Linked DNA regions of Homo sapiens. The protein of the gene in region 1 purifies or fractionates together with the protein of each later gene. This does not show direct contact. Each region holds a gene or a part of one and is shown on either strand. Other genes may lie near its edges.

Region 1 (3,824 bases):
AGTCTCAAGTGCCAGATTATGCCAGGGGGTACCCCTTCCTCTCCCCAGGACAGGCGCAGAGGAGCCGACGAGTCTCTGACAGGCCTGCAGCAGATATCCACTTGCCCTTAAGGGCAGTCTGAGGCTCACCTTCAGAGCAGACCTAAAATCTTCTAATGTTCCAAATCAATATTTCGCCACATGTTTATTTTTTATAAAGAGCTGGCCTGGCTAGGTGCGGTGGCTCATACCTCTGATCCCAGTGCTTTGCGAGGCCAAGGTGGGAGGATCACTTGAGGCTAGGAGTTTGAGACCAACCAGAGCAACATAGTGGACCACGTCTATCCAAAAACTTTAAAAATTAGCCGGGTGTGGTGATGTGCACCTGTGATTCCAGGGACTTGGGAGTCTGAGGTGGGAGGATCGCTTGAGCTGGGGAGATAAGAGGCTGCAGTGAGCCATGATCGTGCCACTGCCCTTCAGCCTGGGCAACAGAGTGAGACCTTGTCCCTTAAAAACAAACAAATAAAAACAAAAGAGAGATGGCCTTATTCTGGTTTCCTCCTTTATCCTCTGATCCTACTCACATGGAGAATTTGAAAGTACAAAAGAGCCTGTTTATCCAAATGCACATGCACACGCACATAGGGACATTTAAAAAACTCGATCTGGCTTCTCCATCACCTCTGACCCTCCTCCCTGCTGCTCAGCTGATACAGGGCTAGGCCTCCATGCCCATGAGACTCTCTTAGGCCTGAAACACCCTTGTTTTCTCCTCTCCTGGGACAGCCCCAGAGGCCACACCGTGGACTTTGCCTAGTGCTCTCAGAAGGTGCTTCCAATGCGGTGATGCTCCTGTGCCTGGTGGAGCCCTGCAGGGTCTGGCCTCTCCGTCCCCAGCAAACTAAAGGTTACTCAGAGGGTTTTTTTTTTTTTTAATTTTATTTTTTTTATAAATTCTGCTTCATTTGTTACAGTTCCTTGCAATTTTCACACCCGTCAGAGGCAAAGCCAGAGTATGGAGATGTGATAATCAAACTGATGCAATACAGTCATTGTTAGATCTTTGGGTAGAATTAGGGAAGGAGCTAACACCCCCTAGGGTAGGATGAGGCCCTGGAGACTTCTAGGTTATCCAAGAAGGTACCTCAAAGTGATTCTATTCTTTGTTGCTCCTTTCATAGAACTTAGGTCACATGGAACTTATGGGGAATCTTCAAACCTCTAGGGGATGGTTATCCCGCAAATGCAACTTTGTTTATAGTGTATTTTAACTTACTATGAGTAGGAAAATCACACATTTGTAGTTTTTTTTTTTTTTTTTCTTTTTTGAGATAGAGTCTTGCTCTGTGGCCCAGGCTGGAGTGCAGTGGCGCCATCTCGGCTTGCTACAACCTCCGCCTCCTGGGTTTAAGCAATTCTTCTGCCTCAGCCTCCCGAGTAGCTGGCATCACCCGCATGCGCCACCATATCCGGCTAATTTTTGTTTTTTTTGTTTTTTTAGTAGAGACGAGGTTTCACCATGTTGGCCAGGCTGGTCTCGAACTCCAGACTTCAAGTGATCCGCACACCTCAGCCTCCCAAAGTGCCGGGATTACAGGCGTGAGCCACTGTGCCCAGCCAGGAAAATTACTCATTTGTAGTTTCTAATCACACTCTGCCTAGAAGCCCAACTAGGGGTCAGGGGCACCCACAGTGTGATCCTGAAGGGAGCTCCCCAGTCCTTGGAAACACGCCTGGGGCGAACGCTGAACATGCCTGAGGTTGCCTGGGCTTCATCATCTTTTCCCATAGCATTTAAAGAAAATGACTTGGCCAGAAGTATTATGCTGTGTGGTTTTATGAGTTTCATGATTTTTTTCTTAGAAATGAAAAAAAATTCACTCCATGAAAAGAAGAAAGGAAAGCCTTATTTGACAGCGTATCAACTGTCAACCACGATTTCCCCAGGGGAAATATGCAACTGGTACCAGGAGCCCCGGTTTGGGAGGAGCGTCTAGGACACGAGGTCATTAAGGAAGAAACTGTTGGGAGTCGGGCAAGAAGTGACAACAGAACAGTGAGAGCCTGACCACCAATCTGGAAGCTTCTGAGTACTTACTTGTAGTCTGGAGATGTCCCATCCAGCCACTTCCATTCATTTTCACGCTCTGAGTCTGTGAGGCCGATCCAGTGGCTCTCTCTCCCTACCATCTGTTTTTTTATCCATTGCTGAAAAACAAAGCAGGGGTGGTGCGTGACTATTTTTCAGAACAGATGTCTCAGGCCTTTTTCTTTTATTTAACATTTAGAAAAAAGGACAATTTAAAAGAGGATGGTTGTCAGAATGTGTAGCCTGCTTTTGCTTTCTGCTTTTTTCTTGCTACTTGCTTTGTTTTGTGCTGTTTGGGGGGCTTTGACTTTTTTCCTCTTACAAGTTTACAACGGATGTTAAAGTGAGGCTCTTCCTCTAAATCACTCAGACAACCCAGTGAATGTCCATTGGTCCCACTTCCTCCTACCACCCACCCATTTCTCCCATGTCCTAATCATAGGAATAGTCATGATATTCTTGGGCACTTCCTCTGGGCTGGGCCCCACGTGCAGTGTGTTGCACGCAGTGTGTCTCCAAGCTTTTATAACAACCCACTGAACAAACATGAGAAGTAGCTGAGCTGGGCTTGGGCCCTGGTCTGTGTATTCTAAAGCCCAGGTGCTTGGTCACTGTCTGCCGTGTGCTCATTCCAGTCAGTTACTACAGGAAACATCTGTTTACAGGATTGTGTCTGCTGGAGATAACTTAGGGAGAAGGGAGGAGGCCACTGGAATTGGTGTGGTATCAAAGAAAGCGCTGCATTGTTGCTAGATGGGCTGCAGTTTTGGTCTCAGTCTGCATAAACCTTGCCGGGCCTCAGTTTTCCTAGCCGTCAAATGAGGGTAATAATAATACCTATGTTCTAGGGTTGCTGTGAGGTTCAAGGGAGCAAATGCCTCTCACGGTGCCTGGCATATAGAGGGTCTAATGAGTGGACACTAGCATTAGCATGCGTGGGCTCTGCCTCCTCAGCCTTCTTCGCTCTTCCTGACTCCTCTGGAGCCATGCGTGGTCCCTTGCACCCCACTCCATCCCTACAGTGTTCATGCCTCTCTCTGTCCCCACAGGTGCCTGGTGGCAGCCCTCAAGCTTCTCTGCATTATAATTATTTCAACAGCCACCAGAAGGAGCCACACATCTCCAGGCTTGATAGGCAATATCTTCCAGGAAGAATCATGAAGATACAATTCCAATGCCACGAATGCTTCTAGCCACTGGATGAAACCCAAATCTCTGTAATGTTGCCTCCCATGTTTACGTGACTAGGAATTCGTGATATCTCTGAATCCCCAACAAGCCTGCAATTTCCAGATGTAAACTATCCTTAAATTATAGTTTTCCCCAACCAAGTATGTGGCAGGCATACCTGTTCCTCTCTAGTGTTTATGAAAACAAGATGTGAAGACTTGTCTTCACAGAAAAGCTTTGCATCCTCAAAAATTTCTTTCTCAACTGAAAAATAGTAGCATTTGTCTGTGAAGTTCTTCCAGTGAGGCGGGCAGCCTAGGAATGCAAAAGTGGAAAACATTGATTAAAAGATCACAGAAAGCACTCTGCCTTTCTTCAGCTGTGTTTCAGAGGCCAAAACTGTGGTCCCGCTGGGAGCAGCCTGAGCGTCCCTGCACGAGGCCCACAGCTGACGTTCACGGACGTGCTCGCAGCAAGCATGACCCAAAGTGGACTGCAGAGCACAAGCCAAAACCACATAATCTGGAAAAGATCTTTGACTGGGTCTTTGTTCTTCTGTGTCTGGATCCGTCTTCACAATGAC
Region 2 (3,824 bases), on another chromosome or scaffold:
CTTCATGAAATAAACAGATTCCTTATATAAAATGGAATATTTACCTCTCCCCTTCCCATCACTGGCTTTCAGTAGTCTGGGAAAAATGAGATCACTTGTTTTGGTTGGCCCTATTAAATGCCGTTTGTATATTTTAGTCGTCTATATAGATTAGTGGTCATCAACTTGGGGCACTTTTGAAGCCCAGGGGACATTTAGCAATGTGTGCAAACATTTTTTATTTTCACAATTAGTGGAGCGCCACTGATATCTAGTAGACAAAGCCAGAGATGCTGCTAAGAATCAGATTATCCAACCCAAAATGTCAATAATGCCAAGGTTGAGAAATCCTGATGTAGAACTTAAATATGAAGCATGGAATCAGGGCTGGAAGAAAGGGGGAAATTCAGTCAAGTTTTGTCTTTCGTTTGTTTTGGGTTTCGGGTACTTGCGATGATTCAAGCATATGTTAAGCACTTAACTTACATTAGCTCTAATTCTCACAGTAGCAGGTGAGGTATCCCCATTTTCAAAGAGAAGACAGCAGTTCAAAGGTGTTAACAAGTTTAATTAAGGCACTTAGCTAGAAAGTAATGAGGCCTAGATTTATTTTATTCCAAAGTCCGTTCTTTCTGCATTACCACACTTCTTCAAGCAACAAACAGTCAAGTCATCCTTAATGATTCTTTTAAAAAGTATTTTCAGTTATATACACATTTACATTGTCTCACTTATGAAGAGAAACAAAGAGATGATATATTTATATCAAATTTCTAATGTTGATAATTCTAAATGTATTTGAAGCCAGGCATAGTTGCTTATGCCTATAATCCCAGTGCTTTGGGAGGTTGAGGCAGGAAGATCTCTTGAGGCCAGGAGTTCAAGGCCAACCTGGGCAACATAGCGAAATGCTGCATCTACAAAAAAATGAAACAGTAGAATTAGCTGGGAGTGGTGGTGTGCACCTGTAGTCCCAGCTGCTTGGATCACTTGAGCCTCGCTTGAGTTGGGAGTTGCAGTGAGCTATGATCACACCACTGCACTCCAGCCTGGGTGACAGAATGAGACCCTTTCTCAATAAATGTATGAATGAATGGATTTCATCATTGATAGAGCAGTAATTGAATTTTATAGCTGGCACTTGAAATTGTGAATATAATTCTTACCCATCCTTTCACTGAATATCAAAAATATTATCAAAACAACCTACCTAGAACAGGACAGGGAAGCTTTTAGAAAACCTGAGGATGAATTCTAAAAGAACAAGCTACAGAAAATAACATATTTTTTCCAATTCAAAGAAATTTCCTCCTCTGCAGCCTTCTCCCTCCCACAGAAACATCTCCTGTTTATCAAAGGTCCCAGCACCCTTGAACTCCATTCATAAGTTCAGTACAGAAAATTGGGATCATTAAATTCCTTGGAAAAGAATCCTGAAATTGCAGTATTTAGAGTTGGATTAGTATTTAGAGTTGAATGTGGATAGAAAATGTATAGTTATTGGTAAATTAAGGATACCGTGCTACAGTTTTTCTAATTTATGAGTTTTTGATATTTGGCAATATTTGGATATTTCTGTTATAAATGTCTATGAAAAACATGCCCATTGTAAAAAAAATTAGAAAAATTTCAAAAAATGTACTTAGCAAGGTTAGTATAAAATCATAATTCCATAATATTAAAAAAATCATAATCCTGTCATCTTAAGGCAAGGTAACTGGCATTTCCTTGTCCCAGTGTTGGTTTAGATAATATTTTCTTTATAAGAGATGGATATAGATACCATTTTTTGTTTGTATACATTTTTATCTAACTTTATGTCATAAGCCCAATGGCTGCATAGAATTCTCCCATATAGAGGTATCATAGTTTTCTTCCAGCATTCCTATAGTAATGGCAGTTTATGTTGTTTCCAGTGTTATGCTATAAATAAATAATATTACAACCTTTTTCATAAATCTTTGCCTTTCTGATTATTTCTTTAAGATAAACTTTCAAACAAGAATTGCTTGGTGTCAATGTTTTAAAATTTCTTATGCTGGGAAATTGACATCTGGAAAAGCAGGGTACCCACTGGATATTGGTACCCCCTGGACCCGTTCTTTGCCATCTCTTAAGAAATGAAGTGACTCAACTATTTAGTTAATTTTTAAATTATGAATAACATTGAACAATTTTTCACATGCATTTAGTCTTTACCTGTATCTTGAAGTCACGAGTGCATTTTCACCTTAGAGCATGTGGAATATCTTTGCCTGGAATTCTTTGCCCAAATCTTCAGATGGCTGGCTTCTATTTTTAGTTTAGGTCTTAGTTCAGATGTTAATTTCTCTGACTTCCCAATTTAAGGACTATGCTACAGTCCCCACACCCCATCCCAGGTATTTTTTGTAGTATTACCATTTTTTATTTTCCTTTTAGTACTTATCACTAGCTGAAATGATCTTGTTTTTTATTTCTATTTTGTTTTTAAGCTATTTATTTTTATTTCAATAGGTTTTTGGGAACAGGCAGTGTTTGGTTACATAAATAAGTTCTTTAGTTAAACTTTTTATTTTGAAATAATTTCAGTCTTACAGAAAAGTTGCAAGAATAATACAGAAATTTTTTATATACCCTTTACTTACATTCCCCAAATGTCATTTTGGCTATATTTGCTTTGTTTTATTCTGGATGGCTCTCTTCTCTCTCTCTCTCTCTCTCTCTCTCTCTCTCTCCCTTTCCCTTCTTTTCCCTCCCTCCCTCGTAAGACAGTGGTAAGTATTCATGTATTTGTATCTAAGCACATCTAAACACAGAAAAGGTAGAGTAAAAATACAGTAGAAACGATAGAAAAGGTACAGTAAAAATACAGTAGAAAAGGTAAAAATTGTACACTTGAATAGGACACTTATCATGAATGGAACTGTAGGACTGGAAGTTGCTCTGGGTGGGTCAGTGAGTGAGTGGTGAGTGAATTTGAAGACCTAAGATATTACCATACACTGCTGTAGACTTTATCAACACTGCACTTAGACTACACTACATTTATTTTTTAAAATGTTATTTCTTCAATAATAAATTAGCCTTAGCTTACTGTAACATTTTAACTTCATAAACATTTAAAATTTTTTTAACTTTTTACTTTTTTGTAATAGCTGCAAACATAAACATGTATTCAGCTGTAGAAAACTATTTTCTTTATATCCTTAGTCTGTAACCTTTCTTCCTATTAAAAAATGTTTTTAAAACTTTTTAAACTTCTTTTAAAAAACGAAGACACAAACACACATATTAGCTGATGCCTACACAAGGTTGGGATCATCAATATCACTGTTTTCTACCTCCACATCTTGTCCCACTAGAAGGTCTTCAAGGGCAATAACAGGCATGGAGCTGTCATCTCCTATGATAACAATGCCTTCTTCTGGAATACCCCCTGAAGGACCTGCCTGGGGCTGTCAGATAATTAATGTTTTTTTAAATAAGTAGAAGGAGTACACTCTAAAATAACTTGAATAGTAATAAATAGTATAGTATAATAAATATATAAACCAGTGACATGGCCATTTATTTTTATTAAGTATTATGTACTATACATAATTGTATGTGCTATGCATTTATACAGCTGACAGCACGGTAGATTTATTTATATCGGCATCACCACAAACACATGAGTACGGCATTGTGCTGTGATGATATGGCAGCTGCTGGGTGATAGGAGTTTTTCAGCTCCCTTATAATCTTATGGGACCACTGTTGCATATGCTGTTCATGGTTGATCAAAACATTGTCATGCATTGTCATGCTGTGCATGACTGTATTCAATGGGAAGTCTTATACTTCTTATTTGATATACTTGTTCT

The links.
Region 2: the proteins of COLEC12 (region 1) and HOMER1 purify together in Homo sapiens (affinity purification with mass spectrometry; 2 studies listed by BioGRID and IntAct, with this or other methods). This does not show direct contact.

Annotation. Positions count from the first base shown.
Region 1 is NC_000018.10:329,588-333,411, forward strand, and holds part of COLEC12 (collectin-12), read right to left. Parts: intron 3,557-3,824; coding exon 3,420-3,556; intron 2,191-3,419; coding exon 2,081-2,190; intron 1-2,080. UniProt on the Homo sapiens protein: Scavenger receptor that displays several functions associated with host defense. Promotes binding and phagocytosis of Gram-positive, Gram-negative bacteria and yeast.
Region 2 is NC_000005.10:79,391,827-79,395,650, reverse strand, and holds part of HOMER1 (homer protein homolog 1), read left to right. Parts: intron 1-3,824. UniProt on the Homo sapiens protein: Postsynaptic density scaffolding protein. Binds and cross-links cytoplasmic regions of GRM1, GRM5, ITPR1, DNM3, RYR1, RYR2, SHANK1 and SHANK3.